2 separate regions of the Homo sapiens genome follow, and region 2 is linked to region 1. Evidence: fine-mapped expression QTL. A gene starts in region 1. The other region holds a variant in brackets. All regions are shown on one strand. Distances are between the middles of the regions. Region 1 holds the start of LMNTD2 (lamin tail domain containing 2). Region 2 overlaps PHRF1 (PHD and ring finger domains 1).

Region 1 (4,191 bases):
GAATTAGGCAGCGTTCCGGGGGTGGACAGCTGTCTGAGGAGGGCCTCCCAGCTAGGCTGGGCCCTGTGCGCCTCAGGACAAACTGGACATCGCTGGCAAACTGTCCGCAGGTGGCCTGGGCGCCCACTGGACACTCTTGTGGCAGCAACTGCCGCTCCTTCTCCCGAAGCCGCTGCACAAGCACAAAGCGGCCAGTCTGGCCTGGGAAGAAGAGGAGAAGGTCAGCCTATGTCCCCCCGACTCTCTGTCCACCTGGCTTGAAGAGTTGGGAAGAACAAAAAGGATCAGCAACCAGCCCCACTCTCCTTGGGGGAGACCATGGAGCTGGACCACCAGGTCCCACTTCAGCTCTACCTGCCCGGCCTGCCTGACCCCGAGAGGACTCACCTATTGCTTGGGCTAGTGCGATGACCACTTCCTGGCAGGTGGTCTGCTCTGAGACCCCACAGACCACACGCTGGATGCCATCCACCCACACCTTCAGCTCCATGGCCGCCAGTCCCAACAACATGCCTGTCCTGTGGGGAGGGCGCAGGCACCGGGTCAGGACCTGCCTACTCCTATCGCAGGCTGGTCCTCCTCTCCTCATCCTCTTGGCCTGCCCTAGAAACGGCTGGGCTGCCGCCCCTCCGCACGGGCCCCACCCTCCTGTGCCAGCCCCACCCGCCAGCCACACATTCCTGGGGTGGCGGCCCTCCGGAGCACGCATCCTCCCCCACTTCACCAGCTTCCTCTTGCCACGCTCGCACTCCCGGAACAAGGCGAATCATTAACCAGATCCAGCATTTCCTACTCGCCTCACCTGGCTCGGAGGACACTGCCCCCTCCCCGGGCGGCGCGGAGGCGCCCGCACGCCAGGCCCCGCGGCCGCCGGCATGGGAACGCCCCACCCCGACCTGCTCAGGCCGCAGAGGCGCTCGGGGTCGCAACCCAGACCTCGACCCTGCAGATGGAGCAGACTCCGGGTCTGAGCAGCCCCCGCCAGCCCGGGGAGCCCCGCCGCTGCCGCCTAATCGCTGCGCTCGCCCCGAAAGTCCCGGTCCCCGCCGCGGGCACCGAAGCCCGCGCCGCGACCCCAGCCTGGCGGGAGCCAGGGCGTCCCCGTTCCGCAGGGCGGGCGCAGGTGCGGCGCCGCCCCCGCTCTCCGTCCGGGCATCGCGGAAAACTCTCCCCAGTTGGAGTCGGCGTCCGGCCGGCTCGAGGCGCGCCCCGCGCTCCCAAGTACCGGGGACCCGGCGCGGCTCACCTGGGCGCTCGCCAGCCTGGAGACCCGCTCCGGCGCCGCCGCAACCTGCCGCCCCCAGCGCCGCGGCGCACCCGGGCCCCGCGCCCCCATTGGCCCGCGGTCCGCACGCCCCGCCCCTAGCACCCCTATTGGCTGCTCAGCGCGGGCGTTCCGCCCCCTCCCCGCGCCCATTGGCTGCCTCTGTCACGCCCCTCCCCGACCCATTGGCTCGTCGCCGCGCCCCGCCCCCCCCGAGACTACAGGTGTGGGCGGGTCGGAGGGGGGCGCCGAGCCGCAGTCCCCGCCCCCACCTCCCGCCTACCGCGAAAAACGCGGAAATGCGGTGGCTGCGGCCCGCGGGCAGGCGTCGGGGTAGGTGTCTGGCCCCGCTCCTGGGCCGACTTCCTCAGCAGCCTTCTAGTGTGGCGGGTTCCCGCCCAGGAAGGGTCTCTGGCTTGAGATCCCGCAACCCCCGCCTGCGTCCAGGGGCAGCGGGGCCAGCCCCTCCCCTCGCTTCCCGGGCCAGCCTTTGGGGCCTACCGCAGCTGCAGTAGTCTGGACGCGCAGGGGTCGCGGGGTCGCAGGGTCACCAGTCCCGGCGAGGGAGGTGGAGCCCTGCGGAGCTGGCGGGCGCAGAGTCCTGGTGCGGGAGGTGCCCGCTCAGAAGGCCCGGACTCTAGCTGAGGCTCTTCTCCGACACCTTCCTGCCCCTTTTGGACCCAGTGCCAGGCCATGCACACAGTGAAGCTGGCTGGAAGCCGCTCCTTCACCCCCTACCCTACTGTCCCGCCCAGGGCCCCGCAGCCTCGCGGTCAGCTGTGTGGGCCATTGATTGTTCTGCCCAGCTCAGAAAGAGTTGTGGGCGTGGGCCTCCTGCCCGCCTGTCTCCTGTGCTCCCCCAGGGAGCCCTTACATAGCCGAAAGTTGCAGAGATGAAGGGTGAAAGCTGGAATGATTGGGTTTTAATGGGTCAGGTCTGGGACCTGGCTTTTCTCCTGGAGCAGAGGGAATACTTGTCATGGTAATGGGGTAGCCCAGAGGGTGTGGACACGGCTGGGAAAAGTGAGGCTTCAGTTTGGGGGTCAGGTAGGTGAGTGCCTGTCACTGAGGTCAAAGGAGCTGTGGGCTGGGCCTGGCGGTGGAGGCGGGTGCCTGTAGTTTCAGCAAGTCAGGAGGCGGAAGTGGGAGGATCACCTGAGCCCAGGAATTCGAGGTTAACGTGCGCTGTCATCACACCGAAGCATTCCAGCCTGGACAGCGGAGCAAGACCCTGTCTCTAAAGAATTAATTATTAATTTAAAAACAGGCTGTGGGCAGGAGTGTACTATTGCCAGTTAGCGTTCAGCACAGTCCCCAGCTTGTCACTGTTACCTGTCTGCTTCCCCCACACACCCATGGCTATGCTGGGCTGGCTCACAGGCAGCAGTGCCCCCCTATTTATCCCGCTGCTGCTGCCAGGCTAGGTAGGGGATGCTGGGGCCTCCCTCAGGGTGTTGGTCACTAAGTGGTCCCCCCGCTAAGCTGAGCAGTGGCTCAGCCTCTCACACCTCCTCCAGGCTGGGCTGGCCCAGAACTCACCTAGGGGCCTGGTCTGGGGTCTCCCTGGAGGCTCCTGGTAACAAACAGCCCCACCCCTTCTGGGTGCTGGTATCCATGGCAACGGTATACAGCCCTTCCCTCCCAGGCCTGCTTGGAGGTCGGGCCTCAGGTGAGTGCTGGGGGTAGGGCCCTGAGCTGGGGGGACAAGAGAGAGAAAGAGGGACACCACATCACAGGCAAAGGGCCAGCACCTGGGTGGCAGGGGTACACGCCAGGGACATGTCGGGTGGTGACCTGCTGCGCCAGCCTGGTCAGAAACACACGGGTGTGGACACCCACATGTGGGTCCCTTCAGAGAGCAACGCTCTGTGAGTAAGTGGTGACGCCTGGGCTGCTCCAACCTGTGTGGCCACACGAGGCGCACACGGCAGACGGGCCCCCCACCCCTCCCAGCTCCCGAAGAACATTGAGAATGGCCCCCAAGTCTGGCCAGGAGGTTGAAGAAACCGAGGAAGAGGCTCTCCTGTCCCCCACAGAGCAAGAGTCGGTCAGTGGTCACCTGGGACCTCCAGCAGGCGCACCTGCAGCCCCCGAGACTCCCACGTGCCTGCCAGACACCACGCCCCACCCCGCACCGGTGGTCTGCTCTGCCGACCCGCAGTAAGGAGGAGAGGGAGGACTGGTGAGCCTCCTGGGCCAGGTGGCCAGGGGCCGGCCTGAGTAAGCAGCAGGGTCTGCTGCCGCTGCAGGTTGGCTCTTGAGTCCCTGGACCCTCGCACACTGCGGCTGCTGTGGAGACAGCGAGAACTGGAGATCCAGGCCTTGCGGTGGGCCATCCAGAATGGCGAGGACGCCCGGCTCTGCCACATCCTGGAAGAGGTGGCGGGGCTTCCGCCCAAGAGGTCTGCAGCACAGTCCCCAGCCCAACCCAACCCCGCCCTGTCCTCGCCCGGACTCCTGGTTTCTGTCTGACCCCAACCCCAACCGCTGAGGCAGATCCTTACCCTCATCCTTGCCCGCGCTGACCCTCCACCCTGATCCTAAGTTAACACGCTATAGCCTCCACCCTAACCCTGCGCATGTGGATGGGTGCTAGACCCTTGTCCAGACCAGCCGGAGGCTGGCCAGCCCCAGCGGGGCTGTACTGTGTGCCCTTGGGGCCAAGGTGGCAGTGGAGCCCCTCCTTCTCCCCTCCTTCGCCACTGACCTGACATTAGGAACCCCTGCCTGAGCAGGGTGGGGGCTGCTGAGGTCACCCCTCCTCCAGGAGCTCCCACAGTCAGGAGAAACTCCTGCAGAACCAGGTCCAGAAGCTGATCCAGGAGTTGAAGGAACAGAAGGAGCGAGCCCAGTGGGTGAGGCAGGGGCACAGGGAGTGGGCAGGGTCCTGGTGTTGGGGAGCCAGGCTGGGGCTGGCCTGGGGGCCT
Region 2 (4,508 bases), 31 kb before region 1:
TTTCACAGCAGAAAAATTATTCAAATCAACAGGGAAAGCCCCTCGCAGGAGGCTAACGGGGAAGGGGGCATCTGCTTACAGCCAACGACACAAAGCAGGGATGAGGAGACAAGTGTCACAGGCTCCCGGGAAGCCAGGGCCACGCAGGGCCAGAGCAGGCGCTCTCAGCTGTGCCAGGGAGAGCAGCAGGTGCAGCATAACTGGACATGCACCAGAGGGTGAAGGAGGAGCAGGGTGAAAGGTGAGGGACCAAGGCAGCCAGAATGATGGACGCAGGCATAGCCACCCCTCCCCCACAAAGGCCGGGACCAGGACACGTCCCACCCTCTGGCTGACCAGCCCCACAGCCTCCTGTCCGGCTGTTTTCTTTTTTGTCTTGATGTATTACCTGCACTTCTGTGGGCAGCCTCAGAATGTTTTTTGGGGAAAGACTGAAGTGTAAATGAGTGTAACAGGAAGGCCCGCAGGACTGAACCGCGCTGCTGAGGGTGGTGAGCACAGCTCCAGGTGCTGGGACTCAGACTTCACAGAGCGAAGAGGCTCTGCATCCCTCCTGCGCCTGGCCCGCCTTGCACGCAGCAGGGCACGTGTGCCAGTCCCAACCGTCCCTTACCCCGCATCGCAGCCGTCGCAGAGCAAAAGCCTGTCCTCACGGTCGCTCCTGCCGCACACCTCACAGAAGGTCGGGTCCTCCTCCTCCTCGCTCGCTTTGGTGTTCTCCACTGGGATCTAGGACAGAATCGTCGGTCACCACCACACAGGACCCAAACTCCCCGCAGTCACTTCCCAGCGTGAAACGCAGTTAATCCAGAATCCACCCATTGCCTTAGATTCATATTTGGGCTCCACAGGCCCAGAGGGTCTCCCTCCACGTGTACACAGGGATTTTTATGTTTTCTACCATCTCAGGGTGGTGATCTAAGAGGAAAGTATTCAACAGAAAACAAAGTATGATGCACGGAAAGGAGCGGGTAAGCCCTGCGGCCCCAAAGTGGGCCGCAGTAGGGCGAGGCAGCAGGTGCTGGACTGCCACGGAAGAGCAAGATCTGCCTCTTAAAAAAAAAAAAAAAAAAGGCTGGGCACGTTGGCTCACGCCTGTAATCCCAGCACTTTGGGAGGCCGAGGTGGGTGGATCACGAGGTCAGGAGATCGAGACCATCCTGGCTAACACAGTGAAACCCCGTCTCTACTAAAAATACAAAAAATTAGCCGGGCGTGGTGGCGGGTGCCTGTAGTCCCAGCTACTCGGGAGGCTGAGGCAGGACAATGGCGTGAACCCAGGAGGCAGAGCTTGCAGTGAGCCGAGATTGTGCCACTGCACTCCAGCCTGGGCAAAAGAGCGAGACTCTTGTCTCGGGAAAAAAAAAAAAAAAAACAGCCGGGTGTGGTAGCTCATGCCTGTGGACCCAGCTACTCAGGAGGCTGAGGCATGAGGATTGCTTGAGCCCAGGAGATTGAGGCTGTAGTAAGCTGTGATTGTGCTACTGCACTCCAGCCTGGGTGAAAGAGCAAGATGGTGTCTCAAAAATAAAGAGCTCCGAGCAGACGGGCCAGAGCACTGCTCCCAGATGTGATGGGTACAGGGGTGGGGTCGAAGGGATATCCCAGGAGCTGGCAATATCTCTGCCTCTAACCCCCAACCCAGACCCCAAACCCCCCAGACAGGGCTCATGGCCACAAGGGGCACTTGAGTTGATTTCTATGAAGCATTTAACCAACCCTCATTTCAGGAGAGCAAGCCCACTTTGGAAAGCATGCTCTGTCCCACAGGGCCGGGATAGAAGCACGGCTGGGGCCTCCACGGCAGCGTCCACACTCACCTTTCTTAAGATTTTACCACCAAATTGAGCTCGAATACAAATGCACTTAAATAGAGTTCGATCAACTGGACAGGAATTGGCATTCTGTGAGAAATAAAAACAGGATCAGAATCTTGTCAATCACTTTCACTTAGAGATCAAAAATTCTTTTACACTGAAAATCAAGTATCTGCTAAATGCCTCCATGCGCCAGGCCCTCCACTAAGCTGCTGGCAACACGGCAGTGGAGGGAGCACAGCGAGCCTTGCCTCCCTGCAGAGCTGCCAGCCCTAGCGGGGAGGAAAGAGCAGCTCCATGAACGCGTAGCATCTCAGTGACAAGTAAGAACAATAAAGGGAGGAAGGACAGGCGTGGGGGCGGCATTGTGCACAGGCCCCTCTGCGGCGAGCCTGTTCAAGTCTTCTGCTAACTTTTCCAAAAGATTGTTGGACATTCACTAGTAAATTTTTAGAATTTCTTTTCATAGGCCGGGAGCAGGGGCTCATACCTGTAATCCCAGCACTTTGGGAGGCCGAGGCAGGCAGATTACCTGAGGTCGGGAGTTCGAGACCAGCCTGACTGACACAGAGAAACCCCGCCTCTACTAAAAATACAAAATTAGCTAGGTGTGGTGGCGCATACCTGTAACCCCAGCTACTCGGGAGGCTGAGGCAGGAGAATCGTTTGAACCCGAGAGGCTGAGGTTGCGGTGAGCCGAGATGGCGCCACTGCACTCCAGCTTGGGTGACAAGAGCCAAACTCCATCTCAAAAAAAAATTTACTTTCATAGTATGGATAACAGTCAGGTATACGTTGCAAATTTATTTTTGCCTTTATTAATAGTGTTCTGACCCACATAAGATCTTTATGTTGGCTTTATTAA[G/C]GTACACCATACACAAGAAAACACTGATTTTAACTGAATAATTCAATCGGCTCTGACAAATATACAACCTGTGGAGTACCCACCCTGGTCTTCGGGCCCTTCCCTCTCCCACCTGACTGTTTCTTCCTGTTGTCTCAGGGGTGTGGTTAGGTACGTCTTCCCTGGGGTTTCTCAGGATTGGAGCCGCAGCATGGACTCTGCTCATGGCATTCTGCCCTCCCTAGCACTGAAGAGACACTGCCACACAAATGGTCCACGTGTCCATTCCCCCGTGGTGAACATCGATGGACGTGTCTTCGTGTGGGCGCACTCCTGTTTCTCTTGGGTAAACACCCAGGAATACATGGCCTTTGAGGTTGTACGTGTGACACCCCCACCTCTGGAGTCTGGGGTGCCCTCCTACCGACCAGCTCCAGGGGTGTGCGGCAGCACCCCCCATGGTGGGACTGGGGTTCCCAGAGGAGCCCTGCTGCTGAACCCTGCACGCTCCGTGCCCGTTTGCACACATTCTCAGGCTGAGCCCCGCACGCTCCATGCCCGTTTGCAGACATTCTCAGGCTGAGCCCCGCACGCTCCATGCCCGTTTACAGACACTCTCTGAGGCTGAGCCCCACACGCTCCGTGCCCGTTTGCAGACTCTCAGGCTGAGCCCCGCACGCTCCGTGCCCGTTTGCAGACACCCTCTCAGGCTGAACCCTGCACGCTCCATGCCCGTTTGCAGACATTCTCAGGCTGAGCCCCGCACGCTCCGTGCCCGTTTGCAGACTCTCTCTCAGGCTGAGCCCCGCACGCTCTGTGCCCGTTTGCAGACACCCTCTCAGGCTGAGCCTGACATGCTCCGTGCCCGTTTGCAGACACTCTCTCAGACTGTTTAGGAAATCCTTCTCTTTTCTTATCACAGAGCTACCCATGCTTTCTTTTCAAAGGTTCAGCTTTGCTTTCTAGTCCGAGATCTTGACTCCGTCCGGCATCGTGTGTGTGCTGTGAGCAGCCCCCAGCTGACCTGCCCCACAGGCGCCTCCTGCCCCCCCGAGTGTGTCCAGGCCTCTTCTAAGCCCCTGCAAAACCCCTGGGACTGGTTTCCATTCCTGGACCGGTTCCAGTTCAATCCCTGTAGTTTTATAAATCATAATATCCAGTAGGCAATTTCTCCCCTTTTCAAAGCTATCTTGGCAATTCTTGGTGCCTTCCTGTCCTCCTGTGTTGACTTCACAACACATCAAGCACCCTGAACTCCTGCTGGGAAGGACGGAATCAGCATCCTCAACCTCTCTATGGAGCAAGATGTCTCGAAAGGGAAGGGGCCTTGCTTCAGTCACGGCTGTGTTAGAAAAGCTCTTTAAATGTCTTACACGTCTCCTTATGACTTATTTCTAAACACAATTTTAATCTTTATTAACCTCGTATCCAATAATCTCGCTAAGCAGCATTTTAACAGTTCATCTGTAAGAGTTCTCCTTTTTTTTTTTTTGAGACAGTGTCTTGCTCTGTCGCCGGGCTGGAGTGCAGTGGTGCAATCTCAGCTCACTGCAACCTCCAACTCCCAGGTTCAAGTGATTCTCCTGCCTCAGCCTCCCGAGTAGCTGGGACTACAGGTACGTGGTACCACGCCCGGATAATTTTTGTATTTTTAGTAAACACAGGGTTTCACCATGTTGGCCAGGATGGTCTTGATCTCTTGACCTCATGATCCACCCACCTTGGCCTCCCGAAGTGCTGAGATTACAGGCGTGAGCCACTGCACCCGGTTCCATTTGTAAGATTTCTATACTGACAAACTTGTTTGCAAATGCCCTCTTCTGCCCAATATTTATCTAATAAATGCC

Evidence for each region. PIP is the estimated chance that this variant, and not a neighbour inherited with it, causes the effect.
Region 2: its variant is the best candidate, but not a certain one, in a credible set for the expression of LMNTD2 in Th2 cells (Schmiedel 2018, PIP 0.62).

The regions. Positions count from the first base shown.
Region 1 is chr11:558,089-562,279 of GRCh38, reverse strand. It overlaps LMNTD2 (lamin tail domain containing 2), which reads left to right and starts at 1,542. Exons shown (of 14, transcript NM_173573.3): 1 at 1,542-1,597; 2 at 3,301-3,424; 3 at 3,514-3,666; 4 at 4,032-4,119. The coding sequence starts at 1,564. It overlaps RASSF7 (Ras association domain family member 7), which reads right to left and starts at 1,310. Exons shown (of 6, transcript NM_003475.4): 1 at 803-1,310; 2 at 388-518; 3 at 1-201. The coding sequence starts at 511. It overlaps LMNTD2-AS1 (LMNTD2 antisense RNA 1), which reads right to left and starts at 3,018. Exons shown (of 2, transcript NR_147607.1): 1 at 2,804-3,018; 2 at 2,174-2,501. RefSeq lists an enhancer at 1-507.
Region 2 is chr11:588,780-593,287 of GRCh38, reverse strand. PHRF1 (PHD and ring finger domains 1) reads right to left here. Exons shown (of 18, transcript NM_001286581.2): 5 at 1,821-1,904; 6 at 614-729. Among named protein-coding and RNA genes, the nearest start is that of PHRF1, 15 kb to the right of the region's middle. The variant G/C (reference allele first, on the strand shown) is at 2,683.